Regions from separate parts of the Homo sapiens genome. Here region 1 is linked to region 2. A link means that fine-mapping ties the variant in region 2 to the plasma level of a protein whose gene starts in the linked region. Region 2 holds a variant in brackets. A gene starts in the other region. All regions are shown on their reverse strands. Region 1 holds the start of RETN (resistin). Region 2 overlaps THADA (THADA armadillo repeat containing).

What was found. A credible set is the group of variants that fine-mapping cannot tell apart. PIP is the chance, under the fine-mapping model, that this variant and not a neighbour inherited with it causes the effect. Protein levels are from antibody-based Olink assays in UK Biobank. Linkage for the fine-mapping came from a reference panel and not from the study's own genotypes, which makes the PIPs less certain.
Region 1: it holds the start of RETN, and the variant in region 2 is the best candidate, but not a certain one, in a credible set for the plasma level of the RETN protein (UK Biobank, PIP 0.66).

What each region holds. Positions count from the first base shown.
Region 1 is chr19:7,659,877-7,675,382 of GRCh38, reverse strand. RETN (resistin) reads right to left here and starts at 6,334. Exons shown (of 4, transcript NM_020415.4): 1 at 6,262-6,334; 2 at 5,939-6,066; 3 at 5,485-5,562; 4 at 4,928-5,164. The coding sequence starts at 6,056. The coding sequence ends at 5,034. It also overlaps the pseudogene RPS27AP19.
Region 2 is chr2:43,327,855-43,343,360 of GRCh38, reverse strand. The region is part of intron 30 of THADA (THADA armadillo repeat containing); the gene reads left to right. Among named protein-coding and RNA genes, the nearest start is that of LINC01126, 110 kb to the right of the region's middle. RefSeq lists an enhancer at 6,284-6,373. The variant T/C (reference allele first, on the strand shown) is at 8,729.

The DNA.
Region 1 (15,506 bases), not on the chromosome of region 2:
TCCTGACTTCACGTGATCTACCCGCCTTGGCCTCCCAAAGTGCTGGGATTACAAGCATCAGCCACCGTGGCCCAGTCTAATTTTTCTTATTTTTTGTAGAGATGAGGGTCTCAATATGCCGTCCAGGCTGGTCTTGATCTCCTGGGTTCAACTGATCCTCCAGCCTTGGTCTCCCAAAGTGCTGGGATTACAGGCATACATTTTTATTTTTATTTTTTTCTGGCCAGGTGTGGTGGCTCACGCCTGTAATCACAGCACTTTGGGAGTCTGAGGCGGGCGGATCACCTGAGGTCAGGAGTTAGAGACACCAGCCTGACCAATATGATAAAACCCTGTCTCTACTAAAAATGCAAAAATTAACTGGGCGTGGTGGCAGGCGCCTGTAATCTCAGCCACTCGGGAGGCTGAGACAGGAGAATCACTTGAACCCGGGAGGTGGAGGTTGCAGTGAGCCGAGATCGCGCCATTGCACTCCAGCCTGGGCAACAAGAGCAAAACTCCGTCAAAAAAAAAAAAAAAAAAAGAAAAAAGAAGAAAGAAGAAAGAAGGAAGGAAGGAAGAAGAAAAGAAGAAAAAACAAGTATAAGACTGTCTTATGTGCAGAAAGTGATGATGTTTTGGTTAAAAATATGTGGTTAAATTTCAGACAACTTGAATGTTGAGAAATGAGCGTCGAGATCTGGTGAGGATAAAGTTCTGTTTCCTAAAATATTGCCAAATCCTGTGTCTCCAAGAAAGATCAATTTGATAATGACTTCATGCCAGCTGCTCCATTTGGTCTTAGAAAGAAGTCAGTTACTGAGCTATAGGACCGCCTTCTAATGGAGCAGACGGACCAATTGGATGTGGGCTCTGCCTTGATGGACAGGCACAGGGGGTGGAGCCACAGCGTTGCACATTTCCCGGGCTTGGGTGGGGCTGAGACGCGGCTCCAGGCTCTGGACTTCCTTTGAGAAAAAGGTCACGCTAAACCAGAGGCCCACAAGCAATCATGTCATGTGGGAAACATCTGCAAAGCTGCCTGACCAGCACCCGTCCCTTTCATAGGGTAACATTCTCAATTTTCTTTTAAGAAAGAAAATGTGTGCTAGATCCAGCAAACCATAAGCTAGGGATTGGTTTACAGTGGACAAATGATCCAGACCCAGCCAACCAGAGTCTAAGATTGGGCAGAGAGGCGGGCATTTGAGCAAGATCCAGCCAATGAAACGCTGGTCTGGGATTTTTATTGGTTTAACCACGGGGGAAAAAGCATTCTCTTTTTTTTCCAGCCCTCACTAGGGCTGCCACAATGGGAGGATGTAATGGGAGCTGTGACAGGGAAGAATTTACTTGAGAGCAAAGGCAGTGCTGAGAAAATCAGACCCGAGAGGAAGTCTGGGTCCTGGAGACATCATTTGAGACCCTGGTTCCAAGCCATACCTGAACCTGTTGTTCTAACCCTGGGCTTGTCAGTTACACAAACAAGAAACTTCCTTTTAGTTTTGCCCAAGCTAGTTTGAAGTGGGGTCTGTTGTACTTGCAAGCAGAAGAATCTTGCCTTGGCTGGTCTCTGTGGCCCACGCCTGTAATCCCAGCACTTTGGAAGGCCGAGGCAGGTGAATCACTTAAGGTCAGGAATTTGAGACCAGCCTGGCCAAAATGGCGAAATCCCCGTGTCTACTAAAAATACAAAAATTAGCCAGGAGTGGTGGTGGGCGCCTGCAATCCCAACTACTCAGGAGGCTGAAGCAGGAGAATCACTTGAACCTGGAGGTGGAGGTTGCAGTGAGCTGAGATCGTGCCACTGCACTCCAGCCTGGACAACAGAGTGAGACTCCATCTCAAAAAGGAAGAAGAAGAAGGAGGAGGAGGAGAAGGATGAGGAGGAGGAAGGAGGGAGGGAGGAGGGAGGAGGGAGGAGGATATCTTGCCTACCACAGGGGATCTAGGCATTAGCTATTGAGGAAATTGAGGCTCTAATAGGGGGTTTGCCTGTCCACATCACCTGGGCAGATATGACCTCCAAGTCTGCACTCTGGGGCAGGAGAATGTCTATGTTGGAATTGAGGAACCTGAAGAGAGCCCTCTTAGGTTTCAGATACAGGACTATTGGATGGGGGTGGAGACAAATAGTTCTGGGGACAATGGAGCATCCCCGCCCCCAACACACACACACAGCAGTAAGGGGCAGGGACACACACAAGGCACTAGACTCACCCTCTCTGGCCCTGGCCATGCTTCTAACTCAGTGGTCCTGCCCTACCCCCATGACCACTGTGGAGTCAGGAGAGAGGGTCTGGGAAGGGAATCCCTGGGCTGGAGTCTGGGTGGGGTCCCTGGCACCAGAAGTGGTTGTAATCTCTGCTCATGGCCACCAGCATCAGACAGGGGGCTGGGACCATCACAGGGGGTGGGTGGCAGTGGGAGGAGAGTCCAAAACATCCTGCAAACCAGAACCTCACTCTATCATCTGTTGTCCAGGTGTGACATTTGAGTCTGGGATCCCTTTCAAGACTAGGTGCTAGGAATTCTGAAGTCTGTGGTGGGAAATCAGGGACTGGATGGCAAGACTCCTGGGTCAGGCTTCCTGTAGAACTGGACCCCGAATCACCTGAATTTGTGCCCCAGGGAGCTGAGGCGGGGGATGCTGAGGCTTTTGCCCACTAGAACAGGGGTCCCCAGCCACCGGGCATTGGGAACGGGGCCTCACAGCAGGAGGTGAGTGGTGGGCGAGCGAGAGAAGCTTCATCTGTATTTACAGCCACTCCCCATCATTCGCATTACCACCTGAGCTCCACCTCCTGTCAGACCAGCAGCAGCATTAGATTCTCATAGGAGCAAGAATCCCATCGTGAACTGCGCATTTGAGGGATGTAGCTTTCTCACTTCTTATAAGAATCAAATGCCTGGTAATCTGTCGCTGTCTCCCATCACCCTCAGCTGGGACCATCTAGTTGCAGGAACACAAGCTCAGGGCTCCCACCGATTCCACATTATGGTGAGTTGTAGAATTATTTTATTCTATATTACAATGTCATAATAATAAAAATAAAGTGAATAATAAATGTAATGCGCTTGAATCACCCAGAAACCATCCCCGCTCCCCCCCTACCCCATACACACACCAACTGTCTTCCATGAAAACAGTCTCTGGTGCCAAAAAGGTTGGGGATCGCTGCACTAGGGTATCAGATACTTATCCAGGTGCAGTGGGGACTAGAGTCAGAAATGCAAGAGTCTGCCTGGAGCATGTGTGTGTTTGTGTCCTGCATCATCTCTGCCCACCATAGTCAAATCTGCGATTCTCCGTGCATTGGCCGGGGGGGTGGTGCCTTTCTGTGTCCAAGAGTGTCTAGGGGCACATGGGTGTGTCTGTGGATGTGGTGTCTCCATGTGGCCGTGGTAGGTGGGTTGTGTACTCTGTGTGTGCACGTGGCTGTGTATAGCTGTGTGTGCATGTGCAGTATGTGCACGTCGGTGCTGTATCTAAGTGCACATGTGGCTACTGATCAACAGACATTTACTGAACGTCTACTGTGTTCCATGCTCTATTCTAAACCCTGGGGGCGCTGGGTGCAGTGGCTCATGCCTGTAATCCCAGCACTTTGGAAGGCCGAGGTGGGTGGATCACCTGAGGTCAGGAGTTTGAGACTAGCCTGGCCAACATGGTGAAACCCGCTCTCTACTAAAAATACAAATTAGCTGGGCATGGTGGTGGGCACCTGTAATCTCAGCTACTTGAGAGGCTAAGGCAGGAATATCACTTGAACCCAGGAGGCAGAGGTTGCAGTGAGCCGAGATTGTGCCACTGCACTCCAGCCTGGGCGCCAGAGTAAGACCTTGTCTCGAAAATAAAAATTAAAAAATAGGCCAGGCGCGGTGGCTCATGCATGTAATCCCAGCACTTTGGGAGGCTGAGGCGGGTGAATCGCTTGAGGCCAGGAGCTCAAGACCAACCTAGCCAACATGGTGAAACTCCTTCTCTACTAAAAATACAAAAATTAGCCAGGTATGGTGGCGAGCGCCTGTAGTCCCAGCTACGTGGGAGGCTGAGGCAGGAGAATCGCTTGAACCCAGGAGGCAGAGGTTGCGGTGAGCCGAGATTGCACCACTGCACTCCAGCCTGGGCAACAGAGCGAGACCCTGTCTCAAAAAAAAAAAAAGAAAGAAAGAAAGAAAAGAGAAGAGGGGAGAGGAGGGGAGGGGAGGGGAGGGGAGGGGAGGGGAGGGGAAGGGAAGGGAAGAAACGAAACCCTGGGGGGGATCTAGGAGCAGACAAGTCCCCTGCTCTGTGTTTTCATAATCTAGTATCCAGGAAGGGGTAAGCACCCTGCGTGTATCTGGTTGTAACTAACTACTCACAACTGCACTTGCCTGTGTGAAAACGTGAGCTTGTGATGATGCGTGACGTCAGGTAGGCGTCCCTGACTCTCCGTAACCCAACTTTGCCTGTGCCTTGGGGATTCCTCCTTGCAGGTAGGAAGTGAGGGGTACAGGTTCCAGCTCTGGGCTGAGACATGATTCAGGGTTCCACCCTGACCTGGGGCTCCTGGAGTCTTGGGGCCCTGGAGGGTCCCGTCCACTGCCCAGACTGACCCAGGTCCTCGATGAAGCCTCATTATGAGGACTGGGGGAAAAGGACCCAGCCACTTCCTGGGGAGGTCGGAGACCCCAGGGTGAGCGTCAAGGTAGCCTCAAAGATGAGACGTCACCTCTTGAAGGCAGCCATGAGCCTTGGGTGGGGACGTCACTAGAGGAAGTTCAGGCCCTATTTTCGGAGGAAGCAGTTGGAGACCCCATAGGAGGAAGGGCGATGGGGCAGTAGAAAGTCGCGGTGTCCCCGCCCCCTCCAGCAGCTACGCGCCCCACTCTCTTGGAGACGCTAGATCAGTCCCTCCGGGCCTACTAAAGAAACCACGCAGGGCTCAGATCCGCTCCATCATCATCATCATCATCATCATCATCATCTCCAGGTTTATTTCCAGCTCCCCCGCAACCCCTCCGGACCTGGAGCCGCCTCCGCCCGCGCTGTGCACGCGCTGCGCGCGACCTCAGGGCTGCACACGACAGCAGCGCGCTCCGGTCCAGTCCATGCCCGCGCACTGGCAGTGACATGTGGTCTCGGCGCGCACATCCCACGAGCCACAGGCGGAGCCACAAGTGCAGCCGGTGACGGCGAAGCCTGCAGCCCGGAACACAGGAGCGTGGACTCTGAGCTGGGAGGCTGAGGGTGGGAGCGGGAGGGGGGTGGGGAGCGCGGAGGGGGGTTGGGGGGGCGGGGGTGGGGACGGGGACGGCTGGAGGCTCCAACCACTGAATGGGCACTGGAGGCAGGGAGTGAGGGTGGACACCAGTGTCCAGATGGTGGGCGGAGAAGGCTGGGAGTCAGGACCAAGATCCTAGGGGAGTAGAGGCTGGACACGGGGAACGTGGCGGGGAGGGGGCATTCCCAGGGGACTTGGAACAGAAATGGGCGCCTGGACAACAGTCTCCTGCACTCACCTCGGGGGCAAGTAGCCAGGTCCCCCCTGGAGGTGACGCTCTGGCACTCCAGGCCAATGCTGCTTATTGCCCTAAATACTGGGGGGCAGGAGGAAAGGAGACAGGGGGAGCTGTGAGACCAAACGGTCCCTCCCCCATCCTCCCCTAGCCCTGTTGGTTTGGAGCTAGGTCCCTGTGGGCATAGGAGCTCACTGGCCTCCAGGACCCTGTCTTGAGTTGGGTGTTTTGGAGTAAGGGAAGGTTTGGAGTGAGAGCGGGGATTGGGTTTGGAGCCGTGGATAAGGTGGGGACAGTCGGAGGGGTTGGGAGTGGAGTTGGGGTTGAATTTATGATCTGGTTGGATTTGAGGATGAGATTTGGTGAGCGCTGGGGCTGGGTTGGAGTCAGGTCTGTGCCAGGGATCAGTGAGGTCTCTGAGACCCTTGGGGAGCTTGCCCAAGTGGGGGGTCCTCACTTAGGGAGCCGGCGACCTCCTGGATCCTCTCATTGATGGCTTCTTCCATGGAGCACAGGGTCTTGCTAGACACCAACAGCCCCAGGACAGGGAGGAGGAGGAGACAGAGAGCTTTCATCCTGCAGGCGCTGAAAGAGGGAACCAAGAGACCCACAGCTGGATCAGCCCTGCCCTGTGGGGAAGATCCGGCCCATGGAGGGAGTAGGATCTGCCCCTGGACCTGGACCCCTGTCCCCCCATGTGGGGGACAGGGATGGAGGCTCAGCCTTGACCCCAGCCTCCCCGCTGGTGCCATGGCAAGCGCAGGAGCAGCTGTCACTTACCCTCTCGGTGGGCTCAGCTAACCAAATCCGGCACACGAATTCCTGCACCGCAGCTCTTTCTTTGAGGCCTCTTGGGGTGGGGCTTCCTGGCTTGGCTAATAAGTCCCTGGGCCCCCAACCCTCCGGTCCCACATCCGGGGCCAAGAGGAAGCCCCTGAGCAGACAGTAAGGGCTGGAGGAGGAAGGGAGCCTTCCCACTTCCAACAGGGCCTCCGTCTTCATGTCCAGAGACTGGTCAGGAGGTGGTGCCCCAGGGATAATGCCAGGGGCTGTGGTCTGAGGAACAGGTAGACAAGCAGAGTTTTGCATGCAAGGGTGGCTGATGCAAACATGACAAAATTAATGCCTCTTGCTAGGCATGGTGCGGACAAGCACTTGTAGTCCCAGCTACTAAGGAGGCTGACGTGAGAGAATTGCTTGAGCCCGGGAGTTCGAAGCTACAGTGACTTATGATCACAGCACTGCACTCCAGTCTGGGCAACAGAGCAAGACCACTTCTCTAAAATAGTAATAATAATTATGTCTCTGGGTGAGAATGACATACCACATTCATACCCAAATGCCCATGAGCAATAGAACTGGTAAATAAAATCATGGTTTATGGCCGGTGGCTCACGCCTGTAATCCCAGCACTTTGGGAGGCCAAGGCGGGCGGATCACTTGAGGTCAGGAGCTTGAGACCAACCTGGCCAACATGATGAAACCCTGTCTCCATTAGACATACAAAAATTAACTGGGCGTGGTGGCGTGTGCCTGTAATCCCAGCTACTTGGGAGGCTGAGGTGGGAGAATCACTTGAACCCGGGATGTGGAGGTTGCAGTGCACTGAGATCGTGCCCCTGCACTCCATCCTGGATGACTAGCTTGGGCACCATAGCAAGACTCCATCTCAAAAAGAAGAAAGAAAAATCATGGTTTATTCCATCAATGGCATCACCTGCAACAGAAGTTGGAAAGCCATTGCTCATGGGCCAAGGTCCAGCTCATGTTTCTTCTTGGACCACCCATGAGCTTGGAATGGTTATTACATTTTTATTTGTTCTTTGTTTCCAGTACAACGGGCCTTTTTGTGGTAAAATACATATAACATACAACTTACCATTATAACTTACTTTTTTCTTTTTTGAGACGGAATCTTGCTCTGTCGCCCAGGCTGGAGTGCAGTGGCGCGATCTCGGCTCACTACAAGCTCCGCCTCCTGGGTTCACGCCATTCTCCTGCTTCAGCCTCCCAAGTAGCTGGGACTACAGGCGCCTGCCACCACGCCCAGCTAATTTTTTGTATTTTTTTTTTTTTAGTAGAGATGGAGTTTCACCGTGTTAGCCAGGATGGTCTCGATCCCCTGACCTTGTGATCTGCCCGCCTTGGCCTCCCAAAGTGCTGGGATTACAGGCGTGAACCACCGTGCCCGGCCTTTTTTTTTTTTTTTTTGAGACGGGGTCTTGCTATGTTGCCCAAGCTAGTGTCAGACTCCTGGCTTCAAGTAATCCTCCCACCTTGGACTCCCCAGTAGCTGAAGCTACAGGTATGCACCATCTTGTTCCATTTTAACCATTGCTTTTGTTTGTTTCTTTGTTTCAGAGTCTCACTCAGTTGCTCAGGCTGGAGTACAGTGGCTCAATCTTGGCTCACTGCAACCTCCACCTCCTGGGTTCAAGCAATTCTCCTGCCTCAGCCTCCCGAGTAGCTGGGATTACAGGCGTGCACCACCATGCCCGGCTAATTTTTTGTATTTTTAGTAGAGATGGGGTTTCACCATGTTGGCCAGGCTGGTCTCAAATTCCTGACCTCAAGTGATCCACCCGCCTCAGCCTCCCAAAGTGCCGGGATTACAGGTGTGAGCCACCATGCCCAGCCTATTTTAACCATTTTTCAGAGCACAATTCTGTGGCAATAAGCACATTCATGTTGTTATGTAGCCACCACTGCCGTCCATCTCCAGAACTTTCTCCTCTTTCCAAACTGAAACTCTGTCCCCATGAAACACTCACTCCCTATCCCTCTCCCCAGCCCCTGGCACCCTCCATCTTGCTTTCTGCCTCTATGGATCTGATGACTCTAGGGACCTCCTAGGAGTGGAATCACACAGTGTTTGTCCTTTTGTATCTGCTTATTTCACTGAGCATAATATCCCCAAGGTTCATCCCTGCTGTAGCCTGAGTCAGAACTGTTTTCCTTTCCATGGCTGTATCACATTCCCTTGTGTGGATGAACCACGTTGTGTTTATTCCTTCATCCATCGATGGACACTTGGGTTGCTTCCAGCTTTTGTTTTGTTTTTTTGTTTGTTTGTTTGTTTTTGTTAGTTCACGTCTTTTGTGGGTTTTCTTTCTTTTTTGAGATGGAGTCTCACTCTGTTGCCCTGGCTGGAGTGCAGTGGCACGATCTCGGCTCACTGCAAGCTCCGCCTCCCGGGTTCACTCCATTCTCCTGCCTCAGCCTCCCGAGTAGCTGGGACTATAGGCGCCCGCCACCATGCCCAGCTAATTTTTTTGTATTTTTAGTAGAGACGGGGTTTCACCATGTTAGCCAGGATGGTCTCGATCTCCTGACCTTGTGATCCGCCCGTCTCGGCCTCCCAAAGTGCTGGGATTACAGGTGTAAGCCACTGCGCCTGGCCGTCTTTTGTTAATTCATACAGTTATTTGTCTTCTGGTTTGTTGAAGCAGTAAGTCAGACAACATTTGCCACAATAATGTCTGTCAAAGTGGCTTGCCATAAACACTGCAGCACCACATTCATCAGAAGGGCAACCTCGACGAAGGTGACTAATTTTGCCATTCTCATCCACCTTATAATATTTCAGGACAGCCAGCTTCACCTTCTTTCTCTTGTGCTTATTCGTCTTGCAGGTAAGACTTCTTCTTCTGGCCGGGCTCAGTGGCTCAGGCCTGTAATCCCAGCACTTTGGGAGGCCGAGGCAGGTGGATCACGAGGTCAGGAGTTCAAGACCAGCCTGGCCAACATGGTGAAATCCTGTCTCTACTAAAAATACAAAAATTAGCTGGGCGTGGTGGCACGTGCCTGTAATCCCAGCTACTCGGGAGGCTGAGGCAGGAGAATTGCTTGAACTGGGACCCGGGAGGCAGAGGTTGCAGTGAGCCGAGATTGCACCACTGCACTCCAGCCTGAGCTACAGAGCGAGACTCCATCTCAAAAAAAATAAAAAAAAGACTTCTTCCTTTCCTTAGCACCACCACGAATTCTCAATACAAGATGAAGAGGAGACTCCTTTTGAATGTTGTAGTCAGACAGAGTACGCCCATCTTCCAGTGCTTGTCTTTGCTGATCAGGAGGAATTCTTTCTTTACCCTGGATCTTGGCCTTTACATTTTCTACCATATCTGAGGGTTCAGCCTCGAGGGTGGTGGTCTTCCCTGTAAGGGTTTTCAGGAAAATCTACATTTTGGTGGCGGCTCCACCACAGATGGCGGATCTAAAAGGTTTTTGTTTTTTGTTTTTTTGAGACAGAGTTTCGCTCTTGTCACCCAGGCTGGAGTGCAAGTGGCACGATCTTGGCTCACTGCAACCTCTGACTCCTGGGTTTAAGTGATTATCCTGCCTCGGCCTCCGAGTAGCCAGGATTACAGGCATGTGCCACCACCACACCTGGCTAATTTTTTTTTCTTTTGTATTTTTAGTAGAGATGGGGTTTTGCCATGTTGGCCAGGCTGGTCTCAAACTCCTGATCTGGAGTGATCCGCCTGCCTCGGCCTCCCAAAGTCCTGGGATTACAGGTGTGAGCCACTGTGCCTGGCCTGCTTCTGCCTTTTGGCTATTGTGAATAATGCTGCTCTGAACATAGATGTGCAAATATCTGTTTGCAGCTCCTGCTTTCAATTCTTCTGGGCGTATGTCCAGGAGTAGTGCTGCCTGATCATATGGTAATTCTATGTTTAACTTTTTGAGGCACTGCCAATTTTCACATTTTTAAACCATAGGGAAAAAAAAGTTGTTTTTTTTTTAAAAAAGACACAGTCTGGCTCTGTTTTCCACGCTGGAGTGCAATGGTGCAATCATAGCTCACTGCAGCCTCAAACTCCTGGGCTCAAGCAATCCCCCCCTCATCAGCCTCTTGAGTAGGTGGGACTACGGCATGTGTCACCACACCTAACTAATTTTTTTAATTTTTTTGTAGAGGTGGGGTCTCACTCTATTGCCCAGGCTGGTCTCAAACTCCTGGCCTCAAAAGATCCTGCCACCTTAGCTTCCCAAAGCACTGAGATTACAGGCATGAGCCACTGTGCCTAGCCAAAAAATATTTGTAATGTTTAGTGAAAATAGAAATCATATAAAATTCAAATTCATATAATTTTCATAAAAAGTCCATAAAGAAAATTTTCTTAAAACATTGTCAGCTGGGTGCGGTGGCTCATGCCTGTAATCACAGCACTTTGGGAGGCTAAGGCGGGTGGATCACCTGAGGTCAGGAGTTCAAGACCAGCCTGGCCAATGTGGTGAAACCCCATCACTACTTACAATACAAAATTAGCCGGGTGTGGTGGCACGCGACTGTAATCCCAGCTACTTGAGAGGCCGAGGCAGGAGAATTGCTTGAACCCGGGAGGTGGAGGTTGCAGTGAGTCAAGATGGTGCCCTTGCACTCCAGCCTGGGCAACAAGAGCGAAACTCTGTCTCAAAAAAAAAAAAAATTGCCAAGCTCAGTGGCAGGCACCTGTCATCCTAGCTACTTGAGAGACCAAAGCAGGAGGATTGTTTGAGCCCAGGAGTTTGAGGGCAGCCTGAGCAACATAGTGAGATCCTGTCCCTACAAACACACACACACAGTTTGCTACCCCCTTTTTTTTGAGAGGGAGACTCGCTCTTGTCACCCAGGCTGGAGTGCAGTGGCACGACCTTGGCTCACCGCAACCTCTGCCTCCCGGGTTAAAGCGATTCTCCTGCCTCAGCCTCCCGAGTAGCTGGGATTATAGGCAGGTGCGCCACCATGTCCGGCTAATTTTTGTATTTTTAGTAGAGATGGGATTTCGCCATGTTAGCCAGGCTGGCTTCGATCTCCTGATCTCAAGTGATCCGCCCGCCTTGGCCTCCCAGAGTGCTGAGACTATAGGCATGAGCCACTGCACCTGGCCCCATTTTTTAATATATCATCAGTGACTGCTATCACATGTCCATGGCAGAGCTCAGCAGCTGTAGAGTGGTTGGACAGTAGGGCCCCCAAAGCTGAGAATGTTTACTATCTGACTCGTTACAGAAAACATTTTTTTGTACCCCTGGTATGTGGTGATGAGTGAGAATGAGACAACTGTCCATGGATTACAGCTACACCCAACCATGTGGCTGATTCTCACGAACATATGTTAGCATAGAAGCCAGACCCCAAAAAGAACATACCATACAAATCCATTTATTAAAAAAAAAGGGGGCCGGGCGCGGTGGCTCCTGCCTGTAATCCCAGCACTTTGGGAGGCCAAGGCAGGCGGATCACAAGGTCAGGAGATCAAGACCATCCTGGCTAACACGGTGAAACCCCATCTCTACTAAAAATCCAAAAAAATTAGCCGGGCGTGGTGGCAGGCACCTGCAGTCCCAGCTCCTCGGGAGGCTGAGGCAGGAGAACGGTGTGAACCCGGGAGGCGGAGCTTGCAGTGAGCCGAGATGGCGCCACTGCACTCCAGCCTGGGCGACAGAGCAAGACTCCGTCTCAAAAAAAAAAAAAAATACCTAAAAATACAAAAATTAGCCAGGTGTAGCGGCAGGTGCCTGTAATCCCAGCTACTCGGGATGCTGAGGGAGGAGAATCGCTTGAACCAAGAGGTGGAGGTTGCAGTGAGCTGAAATCATGCTACTGCACTCCAGCCTGGGCAACAGAGAGAGACTCCGTCTCACAATAATGATAATAATAATAAATGAAATACAAACAAAACTAATTTATGCTGTCGGAAATGACGATGGAAGAGTCCTGGGGAATCAGAGATAGTGGTGATAAAAGCATACCAGGAAGGCCCCTAGTGAGGGGGGAATTTTGTAAAAGTTTTCAGCTGTAACTCTCATTTGCACAATTTTCTCTATGTATTTATATTTCAATCAACATGATGCATGTGTATTAAAGCCCTGTGTAAATGCAACGGTGCACACAGGTTCAAAGCGCAGGCAATATTTATTGAGCAACTATTATGTTCCATATGCTGTGTTAAACACCATGCATACACTAAGAAGCAGAGGGATGCTGCCCTTGCCCGGGACGAGTTGGCCCTTGTCAGTCAGGGAAAGGCAGACACCAACAGAACAGCAATAAAAAGGCCGGGCAATGGGCCAGGCGCGGTGGCTCATGCTTGTAATCCCAGCCTTTTGGGAGGCCGAGGCGGGTGGATCACCTGAGGTCGGGAGTTCGAGACCAGCGTGACCAACATGGAGAAACCCCTTTTCTACTAAAAACACAAAATTAGCCAGGCGTGGTGGCACACCAGGTGGGTAGCTGTAATCCTAGTTACTCGGGAGGCTGAGGCAGGAGAATTGCTTGAACCCGGGAGGCGGAGGTTGTGGTGAGCCAAGGTTGTGCCATTGCTTTCCAGCCTGGGCAACAAAAAGCAAAACTCCATCTCAAAAAAAAAAAAAAAAGTCCGGGCGCCATGGCTCACACCTGTAATCCCAGTGCTTTAGGAGACCGAGGTGGGTGGATCACTTGAGCCCAGGAGTTCAAGACCAGCCTGGCCAACACAGTGAGACCCTCCCTCTGTACAAAACGTAAGAAAACATTAGGCAGGGATGGTGGTGGCTTCCTGTAGTCCCAGCTACTCAGGAGGCTGAGACAGAAGTACCGCTTGAGTCCAGGAGTTGGAGACTGCAGTGAGCTATGATCGCACCACTGCACTCCAGCCTGGACAACAGAGCAAGACCCCATCTCTAAAAAAAAGAAAACAAAAAAACAACAACAAAAAACACCAATAGAATGCTCAATCAGCCATCAGCCTCAAGGACCCTTCCATCTCCCAAGGAGAGGAACCCTTTTCCGTGAGAACCTCTGACCTAAAAATCAACCCCACATGGGGGAATCCAGAAAGTATTTTGGGGGGAGGAAAAGATGTTTGAAGGGAGGGTGGAGGATGCAGAAGGGTTAACCAGGAGAGGCAGTTAGGGAGGGCCTTCTGGGTGGAGGGAGAGGACTGCATGTTCCAAGGACCTGAGGCAGAATGGAGTGTGTGTATTTAGAGGAACTGAAAGCAAATTTGTGGGACAGGGGATCTAGAGGGGAAAAGTGAATTCCACAGGCTCCCTGTCTCTTCTGGTCCTAGCAGGAACTTTCAAGTCCGTTTTTGTCCAGATATTTCCCCATGCTCAAGTCCCAGCTCATCCTGCCTCCTTGAAGACATGACTTCTGTCTCTTCTTGAGCTACTCTTTGACACACCCTGGACAAAGGGTAGCTTGAAAAGAGACAGAAACCATGTTATTGCCAGGTGCAGTGGCTCACGCCTGTCATCCTTGTGCTTTGGGAGGCTGAGGCAGGAGGATCGCTTGAGGCCAGGAGCTTGAGACCAGCCTGGACAACATAACAAGACCCCATCTCTACAAAGATAAAAGGGAAAAAGCCGGGCGCAGTGGTTCACGCCTGTAATCCCAGCACTTTGGGAGGCCAAGGTGGGCAGATCACCTGAGGTCAGGAGTTCGAGACCAGCCTGGCCAACATGGCGAAACCCCGTCTCTACTAAAAATACAAAAATTAGATGGGCGTGGTGGCGGGCACCTGTAATCCCAGCTACTCGGGAGGCTGAGGCAGGAAAATCACTTGAACCCAGGAGGTGGAGGTTGCAGTGAGCTGAGATTGCACCACTGCACTCCAGCCTGGGCGACAGAGTGAGCCTTGGTCTCAATCAATCAATCAATCAATCAATGGAAAAAAATTAGCTGGGTGTGGTGGTCCATGCTGGTAGTCCCAGCTACTGAGGAGGCTGGGGTGTGAGGATCACTTGAGCCCAGGAAGGCTGAGACTGCAATGAGCTATGATGGCATCACTGCACTCCAGCCTGGACAACAAAGCAAGATCCCGTCTCAAAAAAAAAGAAGAAAAAGAAAAATCATTTTTTGAGAGCTCTGATTTTCAAACCCTTTGTTCTCAGAACTCTTCGGGTAAAACCTTTTGAACGACACAAAAGGAGTGGGCAGCTGTGATGACAGATTGAGGAGAAAGCAGGGTAGGCATGGAACCTCTAGGGTTCCCTAGGGACCCAGTTTGAAAACTCTTGGTTCAGTAGCAGGAAAAGGCAATATGCCCCTTAATTCTCTTCTAAAACATAAAATCCTTTAACTTCCTCTGATTTCTACCAGTAAAACTGAGCTCTACTGACCTCAATTTTGTACCAAATGCTATCTAATAAAATCCCAGAAACAGTGATTTTTGAAAAATCCATTTTGTTGATGTGTAATTTACATACAGTAGAATGTGCCTATCTTATGTGTTTGGTTTCATGCATTGTTTTTCTTTTTCAACTTTTTAAATTTTTTTTTTTTTTTGAGACAGGGTCTCACTCTGTTGCCCAGGTTGGCGTGCAGTGGCACAATCTCGGCTCACTGCAACCTTCGCCTCTCGGGTTCAAGCAATTCTCCTGCCTCAGCCTCCTGAGTAGGTGGGACCACAGGCACGCGCCACTACACCCAGCTAATTTTTGTATTTTTAGTAGAGACAGGGTTTCTCCATGTTGGCCAGGTTGGTCTCGAACTCTTGACCTCAAGTGATCCACCCACTTCGGCCTCCCAAAGTGCTGGGACCACAGGCACACACCACCACGCCCAACTAATTTTTGTATTTTTCATAGAGATGGGGTTTCACCATGTTGCCCAGGCTGGTCTCAAACTCCTGGCCTCAAGTGATCTGCCTGCCTTGGCCTCCCAAAGTGCTGGAATTACAGGCATAAGCCACCATGGCCAGCCCTCTTTATCAACTTTTATTTATTTTTTCATTTTTTTGAGACGGAGTCTCGCTCTGTTGCCCAAACTGGAGTGCAGCGGTGCGACCTCAGCTCACTGCAACCTCCGCCTCCCGGGTTCAAGCGATTCTCCTGCATCAGCCTCCCAAGTAGCTGGGATTACAGGTGCCCGCCACCACGCCCATCTAATTTTTGTATTTTTAGTGGAGACGGGGTTTCACCATGTTGCCCAGGCTGGTCTCGAACTCCTGGCCTCAAAGCGACCTGCCCGCCTTGGCCTCCCAAAGTGCTGGGATTACAGTTGTGAGCCGCCGCGCCCGGGACCCTCTTTATCAACTTTTATTTTAGATTCAGGGGAT
Region 2 (15,506 bases):
GCATTTAATTAAGAGTCAGTTTATTGGCCGGGTGTGGTGGTTCATGTCTGTAATCCCAGCACTTTGGGAGGCTAGGGCAGAAGGATTGCTTGAGCCCAGGAGTTCAAGAACAGCCTGGACAACATAACGAGACCCCATCTCTACAAAACAACGACAACAACAAAAATTAGCCAGGTATGGTGGTGCATGCCTGTAGTCCCAACTACTTGGGAGGCTAAGGCAGGAGGATGGTTTGGGCCCAGGAGTTTAAGGCTCTAGTGAGCTGTGATTGCACCACTGCACTCCAGACTGGGTGACAGAGTGAGACCTTGTTTCAAAAATAAATAAATTTCTGATGCTTAGAGTTTGAGAAACAAACAAGTTGAAAAAAAAAGAAAAAAGTATATTGGCTGTCTAAAGTAGAAGCCTCTCTTTTTTATTTTTCAAAAAGTGTGCTTTTGGTCACTTTTGTTGGGCTCTTACCTTCTGTGGCAAGTCAAGTAATGGGCTGTGTGAGGCTCTCAAATCAGTTTAATTCAACAAAGCATTGTTGAGCACAGGCTACCTGCTAGCCTTTGTGTTAGGAGATATAGGGATACAAAAATATAAAAGAGCTAGTCCTGGCTCCAGGGACTTCCAGGAAGTGAGAAAGACGTGTATAAATAATTTTCATCTGGTATATTAAGTATTATAACAAATGTCTGTAGTAGGTACAGCATTACGCCAGAAGAGGGGTGAGAGAGGGCTGACATCAAACTGGCCATCAAGAGTGAGCCAGAATTTTGCCAAGTGGCCAACACAGGTAGGGGAATTCCAGGCTTAGGTAACGGCATAGGCAGAGACACAGCAATATGAAACGGCACTGTAGGTTTGCAGAACCATAAGGAAGTTAGCCCTCTGGAACCTAAAGTGTAAGGCACAAGTGGCAGAGAATGGGGCTCAGGAAATATGCCCAGGCCACACAGTGAAAGCTCCTGTAAGAAACCTTTTGGTGAAGGAGCCAGCGGTGGATTTCCCAATGTGTGGATGTGTGTATCTCAATTATTGTCTCAACATTAATAGCTTTGGATAGGGATATTGATGGAGAAATTATCTTGTGTCTGAAATGCCGGTAAAGTTATTGGGAGCCTCTCATTTTTAGTCTGTTAGTCTATTCTCCCTTTTTTTAGACAGGGTCATGCTCTGTCACCCAGGTTAGAGTGCAGTGGCGCTACCACGGCTCACTGTAGCCTTGACCTCCTGGGGCTGAAGTGATCCCTCCGCCTCAGTCCCCTGAGCAGCTGGGACTACAGGCACACGCCACTATGCCTGGCTAATTTTTGTGGGGTTTTTTGGTGGAGAAGGAGTTTCAACAGATTGCCCAGGCTGGTCTCGAACTCCTGAGCTCAGGTGATCCACCTGCGTCGGCCTCCCAAAGTGCTGGGATTACAGGCATGTGAGCCACTGCACCCAACTTGTTTTCTCCATTTTATTTAGAGAGTAGGAGTTGCTTACCCATGAAGTGTTTACCCACGCCTAGTACCATTTGCCTTCTGTGTGGCTCTTAGCATCCCAAAGATACATATCACATCAGTACCCTCAGCTGTTTGCCAGGTAATAGGCCACTTCTTCCTACCTGTTATTTCTGGGGATCAAGAAGTCAGAGCTGTCCAGAAATTATCCTCTGAAACCTGCTTCTAGCCAGGACTGTCCCAAGTATCCTAACACTCTAGTTCTTAAAGTGCTGTAAGGAAGGAGTTTCTGCCCCCTTAGCTTGCTACTCCTTCATGCATCTCGTAGAAAGTCATTATCCACTGGCTTCCTGAGTCCATTACCTCTTGTTGGATGAGATGGAGGAGATGGAGCGGCAGGCCAGCCATTGAGTGGACCTTCATGTTGTGCAGTGCCTGAAGATGGCTGACAAAGCTGCCATCAGCTTCCTCTGCAGCTAAGAGGAAGGGAAGTCCTCCTGGCCTTTTAAAACCTGTCCTGTGGTCCCTATTGCTGTTTTCTAATTGGGCTTTCCATTCTCATTCCCTCTGCTCCCCACCCCACTTCTGATTTTTCTCCATGATTTTCCAGCTCTAGAAGACAAAGGAATGAATCACTGCAATTTACTGGGTTTCCACCTTCCTTGCCCAGAATGTAGGACAGCCACTTTTCTGTTTCCAGTACAGTCAACTCTCTATTATCCAAGTGTGAACTTTCCGCTTTGTGGGTGGTCTGTAAATGGTTCCTAACACCAGGCTTCCTTTTGCTCCCCAGCACACTTTTACAAGTGTTAATCAGAATGTGTTCAGAGCCTGAAATAGAGTTTGGAAGGAAAACATACTGCCAGACAGCACAATGCATTCCAAAGCTATGTATCAGTTTTTCTATATTATCCACATCATTGACAGGATAACTTTGAGGTTCCTAAATAGCAAATTATAGAACTGGGTATAAGTGATGAAGCCTCGGTGTCACATGCCTGCCCTGTCCCTGAGGTCCTCTTGTTCTGGGAGTTGTCTGTCTATACTAGTTAACTCCATGCTCAGACACACCCCCTCTCGTCCTAGCGGTCCCTTCTCAGAACAGACCCCTGTCTTTACTTTCTCACCTGCCTTTCCCATGAAGATATTACAGTGCAGAGTATTCCAAATTCAACTACTGAAGAGGCTTTTTTATGTCCCTGGTAATTTACACATGAAAGAAAAATAAATGTTCCTTTGAGTCTACTAAGGATTTTCTGTATCTTTTGAATATAAGCTATGAAAAATTAATGTTTTTGCAAAGAAAAAAATGTTGCCTTAAATTTTAACACCGACACCCTTTTCCTTCCCTAATTTATTTGATCATTAGCCTGAGTTTCTTCAGTCCCATAAGTACAAAAATGCTAGTGGATATGTATTTGTCCTTTTGTTCTCAAAGAAAGTTTTTAAAAAATTGATTGGCACTATTGGATAACCAATTCAGTCTTTAAATTTTGACTCTGAAATTGAGGGAACATAAAATGAAGACTTTTGTCCTATATTTGTGTTTTGACTTTGCAAGATTAATAGGGATTTATATGAGGTGATTAAGCAATAGCCATGGAGTTGTTGGGGAATTTTTGGTGATGAGTGGTCAGCTGGCAACATGGCTTCAGGAAAGGACTGGGCTTCTGCTCTTACAGGCTGCTTTTCATTCCAGGATGTCAAAGCCTTAATGGAAATCAGCTCATTAATCCTTCAAGTCCTTTCCTTCCTGTTTTCCTCCACTCCTCCCTTCTTGATCCAGTTTACTGTCTAAAGCAGTTTACTAACTACTGAAAGAAAACTAAACTGACCTAGACCAGAAACGAAATGAGAGTAGCCGTCTAGTAGGGATCTGCTGCTGTCCTGGAAAGGATGGCAGTGGGCATCATGAGAGAGGAATCACCCAGTCTGACACTCATGCTAATTACAAAAACTTTTTTTTTTAAGTTTTTTATTTATTTATTTATTTTTTAGTTTTAGAGATGAGGTCTGGCTGTGTTGCCTATGCTGGACTTGAACTCCTGGGCTCAAGCAGTCCTCCCACCAGAGTCTTCCAAGTAAGCTGGGATTACAGACATGAGCCCCATGCCCTGCCACCCTTGCTGCTTGCAGATTCCAGCTCAGCTGTCCCAGCTAGATCGCTTATTTACTTTGGCTAAGAGTTGTAATTAGTATTATATTAGGCTTAAACTTTTCAGAAGTGAATTTGGCTATCTAGTTTCTCCTTCTTTGGTTATAAAAGGAAAAAAATAAGTGTGTATGTGTATGTTTATATATTGCATGTGTGTTTCTTTTGGTAAACTTAGTGAACTAAATGGACTAGTCAGGGCTGGGTGCGGTGGCTCATGCCTGTAACCCTAGCACTTTGGGAGGCCAAGGTGGGTGGATCACATAAGGCCAGGAGTTTGAGACCAGCCTGGCCAACATGGTGAAACCCAATCTCTACTAAAAATACAAAAAATTAGCTGAGTGGTGGCACACGCCTGTAGTCCCAACTACTTGGGAGGCTGAGGCATGAGAATCGCTTGAACCTGGGAGGCGGAGGTTTCAGTGAGCTGAGATCATGCCACTGCATTCCAACCCGAGCAACAGAGAAAGACTCTGTCTCAAGAAAATGAATGAATGAATGCATGCATGCAGTGGATGTGATAACCAGAAATAAATATGTGCCCTACTAAAATTTTTTCACCGTTTTCCCCTTCATTGTTGTGTGCTGCTATATGCTTATCATAGAAAATTAGTCAAGTACAAAATTTGGAAGAGAGTAAAAGTCTATTCTTACCACAATCCATAAATCACTATTATTGGTTAAGAGTTGTATGTAATTCCTTCATCTTTTTTCCTATGCTTTTTTTTAACTTTGTCAAGGCTATACTGTATATGTAAGTTATAGCTTCCTTCCTTTTTTCACTCGATAGTATCATGAGAGCATTTGTTATTATTTCAAACTCTTTGTGATACAGCTACTGTGGAAAACAGTATGATATTTCCTCAAAAAATTGAAAATAGAATTACTATGTTAATCCAACAATTCCACTTTTGAATACATACCCAACAGACTTGAGAGTGGGGTCTCAAAGAGGTTTCCATAGCAGCATTATGCACAATAGCTAAAACATGGAAACAGCTCAGGTGTCCATTGATGAATGATGAATGGATAAACAAAATGTGGTATATACATACACCAGAATATTACTTAGCCTGGAAAAGGAAGGAAATTCCAACATATGCCACAACATGGATGAATCTTGGAGAAATTATGCTAAGCGAAATAAGCCAATCACAAAAAGACAAATACTATATGATTCTGCTAATACAAAGTACATAGAGTAGTCAAGACCTAGAGACAGAAAGTAGAATAGTGGTTGCCAGGGGCTACAGAGAGGAGGAAATGGGGCATTGTTTAATGGATATAGTGTTTTAATTTTACAGAATGAAAAGGGTTCTGGAGGCTGGGTACAGTGGCTTAGAGCTGTTATCGCAGCACTTTGGGAGGCCGAGGTGGGCAGATCACTTGAGGTCAGGAGTTCAAGACCAGCCTGGCCAACATGGTGAAACCCATCTCTACTAAAAATACAAAAAATTAGCCAGGTGTGGTTGCGCACACCTGTAGTCCCAGCTACTTGGGAGGCTGAAGCAGGAGAATCGCTTGAACCTGGGAGATGGAAGTTGCAGTGAGCCGAGATCGTGCCACTGCACTCCAGCCTGGGCAACAGAGGGAGACTCTGTCTCAAAAAAAAAAAAAAAAAAAAGTTCTGGTGATTTGTTACACAACAATATGGATGTGCTTAACACTAGCAAACTGTACACTCAAAAATGGATAAGATGGTAAAGTTTATATTATGTATATTTCATCACAATTTAAAACATTTTAATGGAAAATATTTAAAAGAAAATATACCCCATCATTCATCTGAAGTTATCATTGTCTTGACATTTTATGATAATTATTTCTTTGCTTTTCTTCCTAGTTTTACCACCTGTGCATCTCTAAAAATAAAATACTTTTGCCTATTTTTCAATTAAGAAAAAAAAACTTTGAAAACATCATTTTTGAAGGTAGCATATTTTTGTCACCTGAATAATTACTCATTAAATTTACCTAACCATTGCTGGCATACAGTTTGTTTCCCATTTGTTTAGTGTCGTAGATGATGTTTCAGAAAAATCTTTGTACATGAGTGTGGTGTGTGTGTGTGTGTGTGTGTGTGTATGAGTGTGTGTGATTGTGGGTTATTGCCTTAGGTTTGATTTCCAGAAGTGGAATAAATTGGTCAAGGGGAAATGGAAAAAGTCTTGGTATACACTGCCAGATTGTTTTCTAAAAAAGTCCATCTGCCTACCAACAGTGCGTGAGAGACCTCCACCAAAATTTTAACTAAGATATAAAAAATTCAGTTGAGGAAACTTTTACGTTTTGAATGCTTACTCTGTGCCAAGCTTCGTATGAGGAGATTTGTAAATATTATTTCATTAACTCTTCTCAAAACTGCCTTAATATAAAAAAATCTTTTCTACAGTGAAAACAACTGGGGAGACACACCACATGCCTCACAGCCATTTTAGTTAACATTTCAGCTTGGCATGAGTTAACAGATAAGTCAAACGGGTACAGATTGTTCTTCAGTTTTTACTTTCTATATTACCAAACAGAGATGGCCCTGCGTTAGCATTTTGTTTTGTCTTCTTTAAAAGGGGTCTTCCCCTGGACCCTCCCTGGGGTGCTGCTCAGGCCCAGGCCTGCTGTGCAGTGTCAGCCAGAGGGCTCAAACTGACAGTGCATTCGGGTCAGATTGGCCATAGTTGTGTTTTGTTTGACTTGTGGAGGATTTACATTTCTTTTTTTAAATAATTTGCTGACATTTTAAACTGAGGAAATTTCATAGTAAATCAAGATCTACAGCTTCTTTTGAAAAACTGGAAGATCTGGCACCACCAGGCTCAAATTCCCACGTGGCCACAATGGGCCAGAGCTAAGTCCCAGCCATCCTCCCTTGATGAGTATACTCTGTGCTTCTGCACGGCCCCCGCCCAGCCGCGTCTCTCATTAGGTTACCTGAGCTCCCATGGAAACAGGAGTTTGTATCCCTTGCTATTGGCATTTATTAAGTAGCAGATTGGCTGATGCTAGTTCTTAATGTTCATGGCTGCGTTTTTAGAATCATCTGGAGAGGTTTTAAAACCTGTGATGCCAGGCCTTACCCTCAGAGTTTCTGATTCAGATATTTCAAGTTATCTCACTGGCCCTCAGAAGTACCATTTAAACCTGATACTGTGGTGTGGTTAGTGGTTGATTGTTGTGGAGGCTTATGGCACTTCAAAAAAAAAAAATTGGGGACGAGTGCAGTGGCTCATACTTGTTACCCCAGCACTTTGGGAGGCTGAGGCAGGTGGGTCACCGGAGGTCAGGAGTTCAAGACCAGCCTGGCCAACATGGCGAAACCCCATCTCTACTAAAAATACAAAAATTAGCCAGGCATGGTGGCATGCACCTGTAGTCCCAGCTACTCGGGAGGCTGAGGCAGGAGAATCACTTGAACCTGGGAGGCGGAGTTTACGGTGAGCCGAGATCGCGCCACTGCACTCCAGCCTGAGCGACAGAGTGAGACTCTGTCTCAAAAACAAACAAAAAAAAATGGTTTTTTTGAGAGACATGGTTTCATTCTGTCACCCAGCCTGGAATGCAGTGGCATGGTCATAGCTCAGTGCAGCCTTGAACTCCTGGGCTCAAGTGATCCTCTCACCTCAGCTCCCAAGTAACTGAGACTATAGGTGTGTGCCACTGGACCTGGCTAACTTTTTTTTTTTTTGAGATGGAGTCTCACTCTGTCACCCAGGCTGGAGTGCAGTGGCATGATCTCAGCTCACTGCAAGCTCCACCTCTGGGGTTCACGCCATTCTCCTGCCTCAGCCTCCTGAGTAGCTGGGACTGCAGGCGCCCGCCACCACACCCGGCTAAGGTTTTGTATTTTTAGTAAGATGGGATTTCACCATGTTAGCCAGGATGGTCTCGATCTCCTGACCTCATGATCCACCTGCCTCGGCCTCCCAAAGTGCTGAGATTACAGATGTGAGCCACCACTCCTGGCCCTTTTTTTTTTTTTTTTTTAAAGTAGAGACAGGGGCTTGCTCTGTTCCCAGGCTGGTTTAGTACCCCTGGCCTTAAGTGATCCTCCTGCCTTGGCCTCCCAAAGTGCTGGCATTACAGACATGAGCCACCACACTCAGCCCAGTTTTTTTAAGTTGAAGCTTAAATAGAATAACTATCCCTGTATTACTTCATTCAACAAATACCTATTGAGCCCTGCTGTATGCCAGGCCATATCAAATACTACAACTGTATATTAAAACCACTACTTCAGTGTAAAGAGAGCAACAGAACAGAGTCTTATCAAATCGAATCATTGACCTAGAATTTTAGAACTGGAAGGAATCTCATGAAGTTTATTGTATTAAGAGTCTACTCTCACCCCTGTACATGTGGAGTACTACAGCCCACAGAGGCTGGAGGATTTATCCGTTTTCACACAGTTCACCAGAATTAACATCCTACCTGACAACTACTATCATTTGTTGAGGGCTTAGCTCCCGGCACCTTACTGGGCTCTTTGTACTTGACCACACTGCCTCCATCTATCCAGTGTTTTTATGTGAGGGTTTTGCATGGCAGTAATTTAAGCCTTCTCTAGAACAGTGATTCTCAGAAAGAAAATGTGCACGTGAATCACCTGGGAATCTTATTAGAATGAAGACTCTCATTCACTAGGTCTGGGTGGAGCCTGAGATCCTCCATTTTGACCAGCTCCCAGGGGACAGAGTACGTACCTTGAAGAGCCAGGGTCAGAGTGCCAGGCTCTGTGATCTTCCAACTCCCCCATTTGAAACAGTCCCATCCCCATTGCCTCATTCTCAAGGGCTTGTGGCTGAGCTTGGAGCTACAGGAGAGGGCTGAGGCTACTGAAGGGATCAGCCCAAGATTCTCTCCCTACCCACCTGGGATCACCTGTGTTGAGGGGCTTCATGGCCCCAGGGCTCTCTATGGGAAATCCATACTCCGTTGTCTGGGCCGCCATCCCAGTGGCCTCAGTGCCCTGTATGGGACCAGTGTTTTTTTTGTTTTTTTTTTTGTTTTGAGACGGAGTCTCGCTCTGTCGCCCAGGCTGGAGTGCAGTGGCGCGATCTCGGCTCACTGCAAGCTCCGCCTCCCAGGTTCACGCCATTCTCCTGCCTGAGCCTCCCGAGTAGCTGGGACTACAGGCGCCCGCCACCACGCC[T/C]GGCTAATTTTTTGGGACCAGTGCTTTGTTGGCATGCAGTGTGTTTATCATTTTTAAAAATAACAGTCTGATATTCTGGTGAGAAAAACAGGCTCTCAGAAATACAAGACCAGGTTCCAAGGTTACAAGGAAAGCAACCTTGGGAATAAATTTTTTGCATAAAACAGTGCTGATGAGGGGAAGAGATGGTAGAGGGAGCTAATGTTTGTTGAAAGCCTGCTCAATGTACCAGACCTAATGACTTGCTACCCCAAGTTAATTCTAATAATCTATCCACTTCCCTGTCCAGCTTTCCTGTAAGTGCCCTTCACACCCCCATGCAGTCCTCCATGTGCCCTTTCATGTGTGCCTCGTCTGCTTCTCCATCCCCCTCATCCATACTCCAGTCACTTTCCTGTCTCCTCCCCTGTCACCCCCTATCCATACTCCCATCTATTCTCCTTTTTCTGTCTTACTTACTGGACCCCACTGAGCTGAGTGGTGTGCTCCTGAAGGGCCTGTGGATTTAAGTGTTTAAGGAAAATATGCTTATAGAGACAAAGCTGAGGCTTTTGTGTGGCAATCCCAGTTCTTCCCTAGGGGGTCTGTGGCTAACTGCAGAAGTTCTGGTGTAGGATTCTATTTTGCTTTACAACAGCTGAAAACAGCATTTATTTTCTCACCACCAAATTTATTCACACAAGAGACTTACACTTCCCAGGCAGAAATACTGGGTTTTAGGTCTGCTTCCATTTTCCCACTGTCCTTTAGCTCCTTCCCAAATCCCTCATGGGCTGGTCCCCTCCTGAAGAAAGAGATCCTTCTTTTGCAATGACTTGAAATAGAAAGAGGCCACAGCCTTTTGCCACAGCTGCAAGTTGCTGTTTCACTTCCATGCCGTTGAAATGAATCCAGTCCAGGATGATTGTTAAAATATTCAGATGATCATGTGGCATTTTAAGGCTATCATTTGTGGTCCGTGCCAAAACTTTAAGGGAAGCAAGTCTTAACAGGGATCGCTAGCCACAGAGCAAGTTTCCAGGCATTGCTAGGGGTTATGTTTTGCCTTTTGGTTTGTTTCTTTTCTTTCTCTCGTTTTTTCTTCTTTCTTTCTTTCCTTCTTTTTTTCTTTCAAAAAAAAGGATCCTCCTTTTTTTAATTTTAGAAAAAGTTATTTTTTTTTTTTAGGAAAAAAATGGAAGAGGTAGTAACTGCTTTTCAATTCCTAGATTTTACTGGAAGAGAGAGGTTCTCATTAGGACCCGTCTTTAATCCTCCAGCACAGCTTGTTCAAAGTCACATGAGCCTCATGCAGATTTGAATGATGAGAGAAATGAAGTTGGTATATTTTAAACCCAAGCATGCTGACATATGTTCACTTCCCTTTCAGACGTCTCAGGAATGTCTAAGGTCATGATATCTCCGGATGAGATCCTGTTTGTGTTTTTTAAATACAAAAGGAAACATTATCGTATTTCAACCCAAGCCAGTGGGACAAGGTGCAAAACATTTTCTTCATTAAATATCCCTTTTACAAATACAGCCTCAAGTTTTAAAGGAATAAGCTGTTTGAGGAAGAGTGAAGTTTGAAAATATATGAAGTATTTCTTGTTGACAGACTGAGCTTATGGAAACGAGTCTGGGTGAAAACAGTCAGAAGTGATCAATATATTATCCTGGGCCCTTGAGCAAGTCGTCCAAGATCAAAGCTTCTTCATACCGCAGCGAGAAATAAAAATAGTCCTTTTACGCAACTGCACACACACCAAGAATTCAACCCCCAACTGCTGATGCTTTCTACTTTTTAAATATAGAAATCTGCAAACCTAACCTGGAGATGGCAGTTAGTTCAATAGAGGGCTCAGAAATCTCTGTCTTGTTCCACTTGTAGCTGTTGGCTTACTGGGGTGTTGCTGTTGGAAGATTTGGACAATGTTGTCATTGCTCAGCTTGCAAGGGAGTGCAGGCTTTAAGTGTCTTCAGCACATTCTCATAATATTATGTAAAGCCCTAATGTAGTGGGTTATGTTTTTTCCTTTAGCATGTAACATCTTCCATCTTTTGGATAAATTAACACCTTTGTTACCTTCATTGAGCCATTCTCAGTCAATTAAAGCCAATTCAGAGTCACAAATATTACAAGACAATGGTTTAGGCACAGTGGGAAATATATGAATGAACGATAATTGTCTCTGTTTCAGAAACCCCACAAGTAAGACAAGTATGGATTTAAATAACTATAAACAAGATTGTGTCAATGCTAGAATTAGTCAAAGTGTGTTGCAGAAGCAGAGAAGGGAGAAATAAATGCCAGCTTGTCAGGGTAGGGGTGTCAAGGAAGTCTTCAGGAAGAGGGAGAAGTCTTTAAAGGATAGGTGAGTTTAATTATTAGATAAGGTTAATTTTTTAGCATGGTGGCATGGGCCTGTAATCCCAGCTTCTTGGGAGGCTGAGGCACAAGAATTGTTTGAACCTGGGAGTTGGAGGTTGCAGTGAGCCAAGATCGTGCCACTGCACTCCGGCCTGGGTGACAGAGCAAGATTCTGTCTCAAAAAAATAATAATAATAAGATTAATTGTCTCAGATTGGAGACTGAGTAAAGTTACACTTGTATAGTACCTTTGTTGCCAAGTAAATTGTGAAGGTCTCATTGCCCAAGTACACAAAAGGTATCTTAGTACAGCGCCCAGCATTGTGGGAACCTAATGTGTGTGTGTGTGTGTGTGTGTGTGTGTATTAGATATATATAATGGAGTCTTTGTTGTCAGAGTTCAGTTATGGTTGAATCTAAATGAAAATTTAGACAGTGAAATACATAGAAGTACATACAGTAAGTACAAGAGTTCAGAAAAGAATGTGGACTAAGATAGTCAAGGAAGGCCTTATCAGAGGAGTTAGATATTTGAGATGGGCGGTAGAGCAGAGTGTGATTTGGAAACACCAAAAAGTGGTAGGAAAAGAGCATATCAAGATGGTGGACCAAATGTGCAGTGGGATACTGGAGGGAGTGCATGTGATGTATCATGGGCCAGTGAGGAGATCAAGCTGAGGGAAAGCTGCTGTGCTTTAGAGAGCAGTGCAAGATTTGATAAGAGACCAGTTGTGGAAACCCTCAGATGTCAGCCAGAGGAATATGGACTGGATCCAGGAGTTAAGAGGAAGTTAGTGAGCTCTGGCTGACACTGGTAAGTAGGCTGCTGTCTATATGCACATGAAATGCACTAAATGCTTTACATCTTTCCAACCTCGCTTAGTGGTCATCAGAGTTTCTAGTCTCTCTTAAGGATTAACAGAAATCTCTCTATTAGCAGTCCTTGTCACCTGGAAGCCCCTGTTGCCTGCCTGGGCAGCTAGTAATAGGAATAGAGATATCTGTATGCACTTGAGACCACATAGGTTTTGTCTTTCCAATGTTGCTAAGAGTACCATAGAACCACAGAATTTATAACAGTAAAGGGAATTTAGAGATCGTCTAATCCAGTGGAATTCATTCTTCAAACAAGCTTATGTGGAAATTCAAGATATTGAAAATAGTAGAGATGGTTTCAATATGGTCTAAACTGGGGTGGGGGCCCGGAGACCCACCTGCATGGCTTCCTTCCTGTTGGTAGCCCCAGAAGGGACTAAGAGAAGCACCCTAACTCCCTATTTCAAAACAGTGATCTAATCTAAGCTGATATTTGTAGAAGAGGTAATAGACACGGGGGCAGGCGACTTCTTCCTACTTGAAAGATATGGCTGTCTCAGAAGATGGCTCAAATTAGGGATGTAAATAGCAAGTTTGTTTTTTGCCTCTTGACCTGCTTTCTTCCTCTCCCGAGGCCTGATCATCCTTGTGGAAAATTCTACAACTCCATGTCCTTGGGCTGCCAAGGGCCCTCTCTTAGGAGCTGCCTTCCATGGATAGGGCTTCATGCTCCAGACCTTCTTGCCATCAAAACTTAACTATTCTATATCCCTTTTCCTCACTCTCAGCTGGCTGGCTGTCCCTAAATTTTAATATGTAAATAAGTTTGTTCTCCCGGGTCACACAGCTGTTTTCCAGTAGTGACCTGGTAGAGACAGCACCTTTAACTGAAGTCCGTAACTGACGCAGGCTTTACGGCAGTGCGCTGGCCTGGCAGGAGCACATCTGCCCTCATATTAAGCTGCTCAGCCCTGATACATTTGTCCCGTGTGGCTGGGGTTTCGGCCACCTCCACAAGGGCTGTGGGCAGCATGAGCTGGTCTTACATGAATGGGCCAAGGGAGCATCTTGGAGAGAGGCCCTCCTAAGTCTCACTAGCCTTTCCTTCCCCTCAGCTGCCAGTGATGATCAGGCTTCCTCAGCAATTAGACTGGCCTGGGTGCCTCTGGGAATAACACCTTCCCACGCAAGCTCAGGGGCTCACTCTAGGACTCCCCAAGCCAGACGGGTCCTCACCAGTCCGCAGGCTCTGCGTTCCTGGGTAACCACAAGGAGAGTCACATCTAGAGGCACTTGGTGAATGGAAAGCCTCTAGCCAGAAAACACAGTGCAGTGCCATTGAGGAGAGGCAGAGAATACTCAAGGTTAGCAAGTCAGTGGTCTGGCCTCTGCTGGACTACTGCCCAGCAAGGTGTGGCCTGTAATTTCCTTAGGCCTGAGTTTTCATCTGTAAAGTGGGAAGCTCTAAAATGAAGGTGTGAAATAGAGGAGACCAGGGGAGGGCATAGTGAGTAATGGAAGTGTAAACATAAAAGTGCTAAGAAGATACGGGAACTATCTATTGTCAAATAACGAAGTCTCTATCAACATAATCGCCACGTTGAAAATGTGCCTTTATGCTGGTCCTCACAGAAACAGCTGCACTTGGAGCCTTGCTTTTCACCAGACTGGCTACCAGGATATAACACCAGTCTACGTGGTTTCTAATTGCTTGGCCCAATGTCTCACTTTTCACCTGATTGTGTTTGGGACACATAGATACAATTTGTTTTCTAGAAAACCTTGATTCTATTCTTGGTTTCTGCCCTTGTCTTGGCTAGGTCACTTGAGCTACTTTGTTGATTTATAAAAATGGGAATGATAATTTCTATTTTTCTTCCTTCTTAAGAATTTTATAAAGATAAAATAAGAATACTTTTTAAAGAGAAAACTTTTAATATAATAAGATGTTGATATTGTTATTATCATTCGTACTATTTTTACCAGGGCTAATTTCCAAGTGTGTGCCTTGCCAAATTCACATGACCACGGTCCTATTGACGGTGCTGTTAGAAATTCTCCCCTTGTGATTTACATAGCTCAGGCAGCATCCAGAAGATTTCATCCACCTCACCTATTTATCCTTTTTTATGCTTTTAGGGAGAAAGTAAGGTTTGAAAAGAAAGGGGACTTGTGTTAACATTCTATATAAGATTTGAAGCTATATATCTTCCAAGCCCCAAACTGTACAATAAAAGTTTTCTTGGATACTACTTTTCTCCCATAATTCCTAGCACATAGTTTATTAAGTTATTAACCAGCAATTACTCTGGCAGCATATTAAACTTTACTTTTAAACAAGTCACAGAGGGAGGGAAACACGCATCTCTCGTAAAAGGAATAAAAAACATACACCCTCTAAAACAGTTTCCCCAGGCTTTGAACAAATCCCAAGCCCCACACCAAGGTCTCTTTTTCATCATTCTCCGCACATAGCTTGAGTGTTAGTACAGTAATGAGAACAAGATGCCTAATAGAAAGATGGAAAAATATGAGGATTCTGGAGGCTCCCTGGGGGCTCTCTGGAAAGGCAGGTGATTAATATTAGGAGGGAAAGGCAAAGGCATGGCATTGAAGCTGTGGGCTTCCTCCAGCAGCAGCAATCCTAAGGGAAACAGAGGAGGCTGTGGCTTTGGCCCTAACCTAAAAAGAGGACCCCAGTACCTTTTGCAGACTGCTGGGGCCTTGCTGAATGCCTACCCAGAACCCTGGTAGGAGTGGGTAAGGCCCTCTGCTTTCACAGATTACATTCCCCAGGATCCAAACCTGCTCTTCCAGGGAAAGCCCACTGTGCTCTGCAATGCATAGCTGGACCTTCAGTCACTTTCTGGACAGACTAACAGCTCACGGTCTCTCACTTTGTGCATGGTAGCTCAGTAAGAATTCCGTATAAGTTGGTCCACCACCAGAGCAGGGCATGGAGGATGGCTTCACTTTAAAAGGAAAATCCAAGTAGGAGGGCTGTGGGGCAGCATCTACATATGGCTGTGAGTATAAACACTCACAAAGCTCCAGACCAAGAAAGGCAGGATGGATGTTGGGGCATACCATAAAAATGCAACTCTGCCGTCACACCTCCCCCAGGGAGGGCAAGGTAAACGAGCAGTCCTGGTAGCCAGCCAGGCCCTACAAGCTTCTGCCAGCTGGCCCTGCATGCACAGCTAAACTCTCCATGTTACAGTGGGGGAAATGACTTGTTTAAATATATATATTCTACAGTTCATCACCATTTTGCATTTTGATTTAAACAAGTCCCCTATTGTTTGTCTAAGAGTGCCATATGATGGTTACTTGGCTGGGGGCCATGGTAAAAATTGGAAATCGGAATGGCAGATGTGGGTTCTTTTTATTTAATTTATACTTCCACATTTACATGGCTTAATGTGGCCTCCATCAAAAGAAGTACCTCCTAACTCCTATCCACAGGATATAGCCAAATATAAGGAGAGGCAGTATCTGGTCCATGGACAGCTGTTACAATGATGTGAAGTGCTCAAGACTACAAAGATGGCCAGTGGGATCTCTGGGAGAAGGGGAAGCTCAACAAAATATCCTGGGTTCAGACAGCCATTC